3 linked regions of the Homo sapiens genome follow. The protein of the gene in region 1 purifies or fractionates together with the protein of each later gene. This does not show direct contact. Each region holds a gene or a part of one and is shown on either strand. Other genes may lie near its edges. The genes, in order: CEACAM21, RYK and PTPRS.

Region 1 (3,652 bases):
ACATGGAAGCTGCCAAGGTTTGGGGCTTGCACCCTCTGAAGCCATGGCCCCAGCTGTACCTTGGCCCTCTTTAGCCATGGCTGGAGTGGCTGGGATGCAGGGCACCAAGTCTCTAGGCCGCACACAGCAGGGGAGCCCTGGGCCTGGCCCAGGAAACATTTTTTCCTCCTAGGCCTCCAGTCCTGTGATGGAAGGGGCTTCCAGGAAGGTCTCTGACATGCCCTGGAGACATTTTTGCCATTGTCTTGGGGATTAACATTTTGCTCTTCATTGTTTATGCACATTTCTGCAGCTGGCTTGAATTTCTCCTCAGAAAATGGATTTTTCTTTTCTATTGCATCATCAGGCTGCAAATTTTCCAAACTTTTATGCTCTGCTTCCCTTTTAAACATAAGTTCCAATTCCAAACCATACCTTTGTAAATACATAAAACTGAGTGTTTTTAACAGTACCCAAGTCACATCTTGAACACTTTGCTGCTTAGAATTTTTTTTCCACCAGTTGCCCTAAATCATTTCCCTCAAGTTCAAAGTTCTGCAGATCTCTAGGGCAGGGGCAAAATACCACCAATCTCTTTTCTAGAGTATAACAAGAGTCACCTTTGTTCCAGTTCCCAAGAAGTTCCTCATCTCTGTCTGAGACCACCTCAGCTTGGACTTTATTGTCCATATCACTATCAGCGTTTTAATCAAAACCATTCAACAAGTCTCTAGGAAGTTTCAAACTTTTTTCCTGTGTCTTCTTCTGAGCCCTCCAAACTGTTCCAACCTCTGCCTGTTACCCAGTTCCAAAGTCACTTCCACATTTTCAGGTATCTTTATAGCAGCACTCCACTAGCTGGTACCAATTTACTGTATTAGTCCATTCTCACACTGCTAATGAAGACATACCTGAGACTTGGTAATGTATGAAGAAAGAGGTTTAATTGATTCACAATTCCACATGGCTGGAGAGGTCTCACAATCATGATGGAAGGTGAAAGGCATGTCTTACATGGCAGCAGGCAAGAGGACATGTGTAGGGAAGCTTCCCTTTATGAAACCATCTGATCTCCTGAGACTTATTCACTATCACAAGAACAGGATGGAAAAAACCCACCCTCATGATTCAATTACCTCCCACAAGGTCCCTCCCATAACACATGGGGATTATTACAATTCAAGGTGAGATTTGGGTGGGGATACAGAGCCTAACCATATCAATGGTGATGAACACCAAATACGTATTTCACAATATCACATACCCTTCTCCCTCAAGGCAATGGGAGGGTGAGAAAAGCTGCAGGTAGATTGATTCCCACTGTGCCTTCCATGTGGAAGGCCCCTGAAAACAGTCAATGAACATCATCCCTGCTCATCAGCATTGAGTTGGCAGCAAGGGCCTGCCCTTTACGACTGCCATGGGATGGAAAAAAAGAAACAGGGGGAAGAGGAGTGATGTGAGAGGAAGGAGGGACTAAAAAACACAGGAGCAGGATGAGGTGCAGGCTTCCTGTGGGAGAATGTAGGAGTTGATGCATCCCAGTAATTCAAGCCTAAGACACAGAAAATGGTGCAACCACGGAGAGCAAGGGAGCCAGCTATGAGGACAGCACAACAGACCACACTCAGGCTCCATGGCATTTCCTTCCTCCCTGACCATGCCCCTGCCCTGCAAGGCCCCTCATGGTTCCCCCTGGAACAGATTTGGACCTCATCCCCTTTGCCTTCTTCTTTCAGCAGATGACAACACTCTAGGCATCCTGATCGGGGTCCTGGTTGGGAGTCTTCTGGTGGCTGCACTTGTGTGTTTCCTGCTCCTCCGAAAAACTGGCAGGTACCACAGCTTTTCCCCATTCTGCTCCCATCCTTCACGCTGACCCCAGGCGAGAAGGAAGGAGACCCTGTCTTGTATTCAGTGCCAGGCTCTCCCCAGCCTCCCGACTCCCCAGGGATCCTTCCCTCTCATTCCATGGCACCTTCCTCACCAGCTGCTGACCCTGGGCTGCTTCCTCAACAGCTTTGTCCTCAGTGAATTCAGTCCAATTAAGGCCATGCCCCTGAGCATGGTCCTAGTTTCCTAGCACAGCAAAGCCACAGCTGCCTGGAGCAGGGGGGAGCGGTGCTCAATACCTGGTACCTCCCCCTGTTCACTGAATCCATCCACCCAGTGAGAGGGCATCTGAGGGGGGATCCTGGGCATCATCACATAGTGGAGACTGGAACAGCCTGGACGGGCTGGGTGGGGTCAGCACCCCTTTGACTGACATGGTAACTGCAGACACTGAGCTGTGAGAAGGGAGAACCGGGGCCCCAATATGGCATATCCTGGAATGTCGTTTATGTCTCTTGCCAAAGGGCAGAGACAGAAGACAAGATCATTGTCCCATTTCAGCATCTCCAGCCCTGAGTGGAGTGTCTGGTCACAGCAGGGACACTGAGTTCCAGGAGAATCCAAGATGCATGCAGTCCCCTCAGTGTCCTGCACATGTGCCTGGCCCTGCTTTCCCCCTGGTGCCTTGACCCTTCCTCTCAGGCAACCCCTGGTGGTCTGATTCCTTCCCTGGGTCCTCAGTCCCTTTCCTGTGTCACTGGATCAATGTTCTCCTGGCCCAGCATCTGCCTGAGAGTCCTTCCCCTCTGGCCAGGACAGATGTGGCTTTGTAAGGCCTTTCCTCAACTCCCCTCACCTGGGCCCCTCCTACCACAGAACTCCATAAAGAAAGGAGGTCTCCATACCCCTCTTGGAAATAGGCTCCTTTCCTGGTCCCCTATTTTAACTCCAATTTGTGACTTTTAACCTTGCACCTTCACAAATAACCCTGACCTTTCCTAGGGCCAGCGATCAGAGTGACTTCAGGGAGCAGCAGCCCCCAGCCTCCACCCCCGGTGAGTGTCCCTTCAGTCTGGGTGTGGCTGGGAACTACTAAGCCAGCCCCAAGTTGTCCACTCCTGCCAGTTACACCCAGGGGCCTCTGACCCTATCCCTGGGGCTGCAAAGAGGATCCCATAAAACATCACACAGGAAACCCCAACTGGCCGGGTCAGCCCTAACCTCCGGGCTCTGGGTCATGGGTCACTTCCTCAACCTCACTTGCTTACTTGACCCCTAAAATAACCTGAGAAAGGCTCCCTCTCCCCAATTCTCTAAGAACTGAGGACCCCCACACACTCTTGCAGGAGGGGCCCAGCTATCCTAACACTCTCGTGCTCACTTTTGTCTCTGTCCCCAGGCCATGGACCCTCTGACAGCTCCATCTCCTAGGTAAGACTGTCCGTTCCCAATCCCATTTCCACTGGGGCCCCAGCTGTGCAGGCTCAGGGCAGGGGGACTGTCAATCCCCAGCACAAACCCACCCTACCCAGAATGACTTGGATAAGGTTAGACCTGCCCTGGCCATGAGCTGGGCCTCTGTTCAGGGCCAGGATCATCCACTCCCTGTGCTAACCCCACCCTGGGACCCTCCATCACCTGAGGAGAGCCCTGGAATTCCTACACAGCAGGAATCCTTCCCTGTCCCCTGACACCCCTCTCTCCCCTGCCCAGATTCCCCTACCCAGCACCAGGGCAGCTGCTCTCATCTATGAGGTGAGTGGGGGCCACAGATATTCTGGTCCCTTGGGCCCCAGGGAGACCCAGGATCTGTCCCCACTGGCATCTGGCTGAGCTGAAG
Region 2 (3,652 bases), on another chromosome or scaffold:
CTTTTAAAAAAATCTGTGTATTTTACAAAGTATTTTGGGATTTTGTTGTTATTGAAAAATAATAACCTAAAATTTAATGCAACATGTTTAGATTTTACAAACAGACTTGTATTTGACTTGCGTTTGGTATTTCTCTTTTTTCCTTTTCTTTTTTTCACTTTTTTCTCTTTTACTCATTAAAATATGTATTTTGGGGCAAGCTATTTCTCTGAGCCTCAGTTTTCTCACCTGTAAAATTGAGCTACCAATGATTCTCACAGGTTTATTGAGGAAATTAAATGTATTGAAGGATGCAAAATGATTTGAATTTGTAGGTACTCATAAACCTGATACTACAGTACACAGGTATCCCCCTCCTCATCCAAGTTCAGTTGTTCTGACCTCAGGGTTCACACTTGGCGGCAGATCAGTGGATGTACCGGATCTGAGTCCTTCCCAGCCATGTGGCAGCAGCTCTGTGTAGAGACGTTGCCTGCCCCCCGCCCCCTGCACGCTCTCCAGGAGCCAAGTACAGCCAGGAATTGGCCAAAATGGAGAGCCCCGAACGGACCATGAATGGACACTGTTGCCACTGTTTACTATTCCTGTTCCTTTCTGTAGTTTACCTGCTGATTTTAAATAAACCTGATTGCTTACTCAAGCAAGGTTGGAAGTTTTTTTAATCCTTTAATTTAAAACTTTAAATACAGTAAAAATCCATGACTTCTTATATTTCCCCTCATTTGCGTATTTCACTTAGGATGCTCTTCCCTTTAATTAAACTAAAATTCTGTTCATTTTCCACTTCTCAATTATGCAGACTAGCTATAATATTTAAAGTTACAAATTCTCATATTAGAAGAATCTTGGACATAATTCATAATACGTAGCTTGTAATCAACAGTAAACTATTACTTCCAATGGATCTAATTACTTAGAATTTATAATACTAATATTGGATGCACTCTTTTTTATCTTAGCAAGGGAAACTAACTGTGTATGATAGACATTTTTTTGTAAATAACATTTCGCTTTTCCAAAGCATGAGTTGAGCTGTTATTTTTTGTCCTGTAGCTGGCTGTGGGCGCTAGCCCCCTGACTGTTGTTTTAAATGTCCCCTCATTGTGCTTCTGCTCCTTTACTAGTGGGCCTTTGGAGTGACGCTGTGGGAACTCATGACTCTGGGCCAGACTCCCTACGTGGACATTGACCCCTTCGAGATGGCCGCATACCTGAAAGATGGTTACCGAATAGCCCAGCCAATCAACTGTCCTGATGAATTGTGAGTTTTTTTGAGCTTGAAGGCATGAGTTTTATTCCATTTACTATATTGGAATAAAGGAAAAAGAGCAGGTTTCCATATTCACACAGAGCCTTCCCTTTTGAGAATAATGACTCTTTGGATTTAAATTAGACTCTTATAAAAAACCACAAAGTCAGGGAGATTCGTTCACTCTTTCATGCATTTGATATTAGAACGTCTTGCATTTTATTTTATAGTGCATAATCTAAGCACTATAAATTAGTCTGAGAGGACGTACTAAGAAAATTGAATGCTACGTCAGTTATTCTATATAAAGTGAGTATCTGACTTTTATAGTTATAAAGTAGTTATAAAGGACATAGTAGTTATAAAAAACCTCTCTCGTTGTCATTTTGCCTTGCCAGTTAGTATCAGCTAATACAGGGAAGATGATCTGGACTAGTAAGCCAAATAGTTGCTTTCTGTTTCCTGCTTCTATCACATAGCTTATCTTGCCATGTAATGAGAATGGGATAAACAGGAGGCTATGCAGGGTGATTGATCGTACAGATGAGTATATTCTCAGTTCCAGAACCTCCTGAAGGTTTCTGCACCATGACAAGGTGGCAGCTTTTGTACTGATTTTACTCTAGATCCAGGGTTCATAGAACTTAGATAAAACTTTCTCTTCCTCCAAGTTCTTTTCTTAATTTAACTACAGGAAAACACACATTCTTTTTTTACTGTGTTTTAGGTTTTTACATGAAATCTCTGTATTTGCTGAAATATTTTGATATGTTGTCATGAAGAATTGAAATTCACACATAATCCAAATAATTTCTTTTAGCTTCTTTCTAGAGCTGCCAACAGATAGTAAAATGGATCCGTTTTTAATATATCATCCTCTCCATACCCACCTTTAGACAGGCAACATAACTGGCATCAAACTGAGCAAAAGTTATGAATACTGTATCCTTACTAGCCCAAATTTTCATTTTTGTCACTCTGCAGATTTGCTGTGATGGCCTGTTGCTGGGCCTTAGATCCAGAGGAGAGGCCCAAGTTTCAGCAGCTGGTACAGTGCCTAACAGAGTTTCATGCAGCCCTGGGGGCCTACGTCTGACTCCTCTCCAATCCCACACCATCAGGAAGAAGGTGCCTGTCGGGGCTCACTTGAAGCCTGTCAGGGATGCTTTGTATCTAACACAACGCCAACAGAAGCACATTTGTCTTCCAGAACACCGTGCCTTAGAAATGCTTTAGAATCTGAACTTTTTAAGACAGACTTAATAATGTGGCATATTTTCTAGATATCACTTTTATTAGGTTGAACTGAAAGGGTTTTTGTAAATTTTTTGGCCAAAATTTTTTAAAACATACTTACTTTGGACTAGGGGTACATTCTTACAAAATAAATAAACAGTTTTTAAAATTGTTTAGACACAGATATTTGGAATTAGCTATCTTAGTGCCAACTGCTTTTTATTTTTTTACTTCATCAAGGTGATGTAAGTGACTCACCTTTAAAGTTTTTTTAGTGTTATTTTTTATCACTACTCTGGGAAATGGTTTGTCTTCAAGATGCAATACTTTTCTTAGTAAAGGAAAAACAGCATAAAAAGATACCTGGTCTGCCTTGTACAAGAAAAGGCAATATTAGAGGAAGAAAATTTAAAGAAAAGCTAGAGGAAAAAAAAATTTTTTTAAAAATACTTATTAGAAGCAAACTGCCCTTGCATGGAAAACTGTTTATTTTTTTCAGTGAAAAGGAATTCTGCTTTCGTGTTTTTGGGAAAGCAGGAACTGAGTTCATTACATCTTTAATTTGGCAGAAATTAGCCTTTCTGTGAACCAGATGTGGTTTGGGGCAGATCTGTAGTAAACAATGGTGATTTTATTTATTTTTACTCTCTGGAAAAGGAGATAATACAATTCCAGAAAGTGAACTCATATTTCTAAGGTTAAGATTCCCTTTTATTGCACCTAGAATAGTGCTATGCACAGAGCGGGTGCTTGAGTTGTTGTCGTTTTTTGTTTGTTTTTTAAATGTAAACTGGTAAATTTTGTGCTTATCTTCAAGGCTGGCTTAAGTATAAAATTGTTTTTTAAACACTTGAAAAATTAAAGGATTTGTTTTATATTATGACAGTATTGAAATTATTTTTCATAATGAATGATTGGTTATTGTGTCTGGTAAGTCTTTGAACATTCAACAGCCAGACATTTGTGTTTTATTTCATGATGTTCCAGTCAAGTTCCAAAGCCCTAACACAGTTAAGCTGGCTCAGACTCCAGGTTCTAGTAAAAAGTTGGAATTAATGTTATAAGGAAGTATTAAAACACTGAAACATTTCTCCAGAACCAGCAAGTAAGGGATATGTATGTATTTATGCTCAGTTTTAGTTGGCCTAAAGCAGAGTTGAATGGGCT
Region 3 (3,652 bases), about 36 Mb from region 1:
GGAGAAGAGTAACAGTGCCCACCTTGAGGGATTGTTAGGAGGAAGAAATGAGTTAACGTGTGTAAGCACAGATTCAGAACGGCACCTAGAATGTAGCTGCCACCTCTATTCTGTTTTTGTTATTATTTTTGACAACATGGGAGCTACACTGATATGTTGAAGGACCTGCCCAAGAGGGGCTCTCCAGTGTCCACCCGCGCCCCGCTACCCCGCCCTCAGCCCCCCGATGGGGTCCAGCACCAGGGAGATGTCAGGATGACTCAGCCACTGCAAACTGGGGCGTTCCCCTTCACTGGCTGCTTAATCAAGGCCGCCCCACTTCTGCGGCAGGACTGGGCGACTGGCGGGAGCTGAACCACAGGGGGCCTGGATGGTGGACAGGGAGGACACGTGGCTGCCTTGGGAGCTCCAGGCACTCCAGGGACTCCACATGTGGCTCCCAACTTCCAGAGCCCCTGGTGGGCCCGAGTGATCACCAAAGGGGGGAGTTTGGGGGGGATTTGGGGGTTTAACAGCAGTCATTTGATGGGCACTCAGGAAAGTGATCGGTTGACAAGCATGGTGTGCGAGCGAGCATGCATGCATTCATTCGAATATTCACCAGTTCATTAATTCATTCATTCCATCAGGATTGCTGGAAACCTGCTGCTAAGGAACTTGGAAGCCAGAATCTAAGCAGCTGTGGGGCTTGGGCTAGTAATAAAGCTGTTCTGTGCCTCAGTTTCCTGATCTGTAAAATGGGTGCTTTGACATTGCCTCTATCATAAGTGGAGACAGATGAACTGGTGTGGGGGGCACCAAGGACAGAGACTGAGAGTGGCACCTGCTGCTTTGTGGCTGGAGGTGAGGGGGGCGGAAACAAGAAGAGAAGAGTTGACTTTAGCTGGGGAAGACCACACAGGACCCCCCACCCCAAGGAGTTCGAATCGCATTGTGTGTGTGTGTGTGTGTGTGTGACAGGACTCACACTGTTGCTCAGGCTGGAGTGCAGTGATGCCATAATGGCTCACTGCAGTGTCTTAACTCCTGGGCTCAAGCAATCCTCCCACCTCAGCCTCCCAAGTAGCTGGGGACTATAGGCATCCACCAGCACGCCCAGCTGACTTTTGTATTATTATTATTATTATTATTATTATTTATTTATTTTTTTTTTGTAGAGATGGGTTTCACCATATTGCTCAGGCTGGTCTCAAACTCCTGGGTTCAAGCTATCTGCCTGCCTTGGCCTCGGAAAATGCTGGGATTCCAGGTGTGAGCCACCACACCTGGCGAATTGGCATTTTTTATTTATTTTTTATTTTATTTTATTTATTTGAGACAGTCTTGCTCTGTCGCCAGGCTGGAGTGCAACGGCGTGATCTCAGCTCACTGCAATCTCCGCCTCCCGGGTTCAAGTGGTTCTCCTGCCTCAGCCTCCCGAGTAGCTGGGATTACAGGCACCCGCCACCACATCTGGCTAATTTCTGTATTTTTGGTAGAGATGGGGTTTTACCCCATTGGCCAGGCTGGTCTCAAACTCCTGACATCAAGTGATCCGCCTGCCTTGGCCTCCCAAAGTGCCGGGATTACAGGCGTGAGCCACCGCGTCTAACAAATTGCATTTTTTAGATGTGCGGTCAGAGTTCTCTGAAAGCCCCCAGAGCTGGGCTGCCAACATCAGGATCAACAGAAAACCTGGAATGTTGGGAATGCTTCTTGGAACATCTGTCAGGCCAAGGCCCAGAGAGGGAGAGCAACTTGCCCAAGACCACACAGCCATGCCTGCCTGCCTGCTGCTGGGCCTTGCGCAGGAGGATGGACAGGGACCCCTTTCACCAGTCCAAAGGGAGAAACCGAGGCAGGAAGCCATGGCGGGTGTGTGATTCTCAAGCCATAACGCCTGTCAGGGCTGGAGTCTCCACTCCAGCGGGTCGTATGGGCCAAAAAGGCTTCTTCAACCTCCAAGGAAGCCCTGAATGGCTCCAGGGCCAGATCTGTTGGTTTTTCCAAGGAAAAGCAGAAATCTAGATTTTAAGTAAAATTGCCCAATTTTGGCTGGGCATGATGGCTCACGCCTGTAATCCCAGCACTTTGGGAGACCAAGGCAGGCAGATCACCTAAGGTCAGAAGTTTGAGACCAGCCTGGCCAACATGGTGAAACCCCGCCTCTACTAAAAATACAAAAATAATCTGGGCATGGTGGTGCATACCTGTAATCGCAGCTACTTGGGAGGCTGAGACAGGAGAATCGCTTGAACCTGGGAGGCGGAGGTTGCAGTGAGCTGAGATCATGCCACTTGCACTCCAGCCTGGGCGATAGAGTGAGACTCTGTCTAAAAAAAAAAAAAAATTGCCCTATTTTAACATCCTTGGGTTGAAACATCTTAACATGGCACAGTACAGAAATCCAGGGCCACCGTGGACTTTGACCCCTTCCCCAACAATTAAAAGTTGCGTGACTTCTGACACCTCCATTGCCGTCCGCGGGCCTCAGTTTCCAGGCCTGTGAAATGGGTTTAAGACTCCCAGCCACCTCTGCGGTTCTTTAGAGGCACCAGTGTGATAGCTTACAGAGAGTGCTGAGAACAGGGCCTGGGCCAGCGTCCGCGCTCGATAAACGTTGGCTCTGATTATATTAATATTGGTCATAATGATAAACTTGACTTAAATTAAATACTGCGTAGAAGGAAGCCGGCTGTCCCGCGGGGCAGGGCTGCGAATTATCTACTGGCGGCAGGACCTGCTTCTCCATCCCTCGTTCTTTCTGTAGCGCAGTCGTTTGCTCTTGGGGCTGGAGCACCCGGGTTACCAGTATTACTCGTTGAGTGTACTGCTGTGGTTCTCAGCCGGGGTCACTTTTGCTCCCCTGGGCACACTTGGCAACGTCTGGGGACATTTTTGGGTGTCATGTCCAGGGGGGTGCTGCTGGTATGGAGTAGGTGGAAGCCAGAGATGCTGCTCAACTCTGTGTAATGGCCAGGATGACCCCATCCCAGATAATGACCCCACCCTCATGTACACTGTGCTGAGGTTTAGAAACCCTGATTTTGCCAGGCATGGTGGCTCACGTCCATAATCCCAACACTTTGGGAGGTTAAAGCGGGAGGATTGCTTGAGCCTAGGAGTTCAAGATCAGACTGGGCAACACAGTGAGACCTCATCTCTACAAAAAACAAAAAAAAATCAGCCGAGGGTTGGGGTGCACACGTACGGTCCCAGCTACTGGGGAGGCTGAGGTGGGAGGATTGCTTGAGCCTAAGAGTTTGAGGCTGCAGTGAGCTATGATTGCATCACTCCACTCCAGCCTGGGCAACAGAGCAAGGCCTTCTCTTTTTTTTTTTTTTTTTTTTTTAAAAAAAGAAGCCCTGACTTATGCTGAAGACCCAAGACAGCGAGAGAAATCAGGCAGATGGTGCCTTTGTCCCTGAGCGTCCACCCAACACGCTCCCTGACGTCTCGCGGGGCCAGAACGCTTAGATTGCTAATGGGTTCCCTCTGCACATCTGTCCTGGTTCCACTGCCCCATTGATTATTGGAAGTGGGTAATTGCCCCTGTCGGATGAATTCTAGAGAGTGTGAACTGCCGGGGTTTCCGGCAACAGTGCTGGCTTCAACTCCCAGATATCAGCAGGGTGCAGAGAGGCTGCCAGGTCCCAGGACTTTTTCTCTTGGC

The links.
Region 2: the proteins of CEACAM21 (region 1) and RYK purify together in Homo sapiens (affinity purification with mass spectrometry; 3 studies listed by BioGRID and IntAct, with this or other methods). This does not show direct contact.
Region 3: the proteins of CEACAM21 (region 1) and PTPRS purify together in Homo sapiens (affinity purification with mass spectrometry; 3 studies listed by BioGRID and IntAct, with this or other methods). This does not show direct contact.

The regions. Positions count from the first base shown.
Region 1 is NC_000019.10:41,582,629-41,586,280, forward strand, and holds part of CEACAM21 (cell adhesion molecule CEACAM21 isoform 1 precursor), read left to right. Parts: intron 1-1,718; coding exon 1,719-1,815; intron 1,816-2,814; coding exon 2,815-2,867; intron 2,868-3,211; coding exon 3,212-3,243; intron 3,244-3,525; exon of another isoform or gene 3,526-3,567; intron 3,568-3,652.
Region 2 is NC_000003.12:134,156,846-134,160,497, reverse strand, and holds the end of RYK (tyrosine-protein kinase RYK isoform 2 precursor), read left to right. Parts: intron 1-1,124; coding exon 1,125-1,261; intron 1,262-2,233; coding exon 2,234-2,345; 3' UTR 2,346-3,365; downstream 3,366-3,652. UniProt on the Homo sapiens protein: May be a coreceptor along with FZD8 of Wnt proteins, such as WNT1, WNT3, WNT3A and WNT5A. Involved in neuron differentiation, axon guidance, corpus callosum establishment and neurite outgrowth.
Region 3 is NC_000019.10:5,330,808-5,334,459, reverse strand, and holds part of PTPRS (receptor-type tyrosine-protein phosphatase S isoform 1 precursor), read left to right. Parts: intron 1-3,652. UniProt on the Homo sapiens protein: Cell surface receptor that binds to glycosaminoglycans, including chondroitin sulfate proteoglycans and heparan sulfate proteoglycan.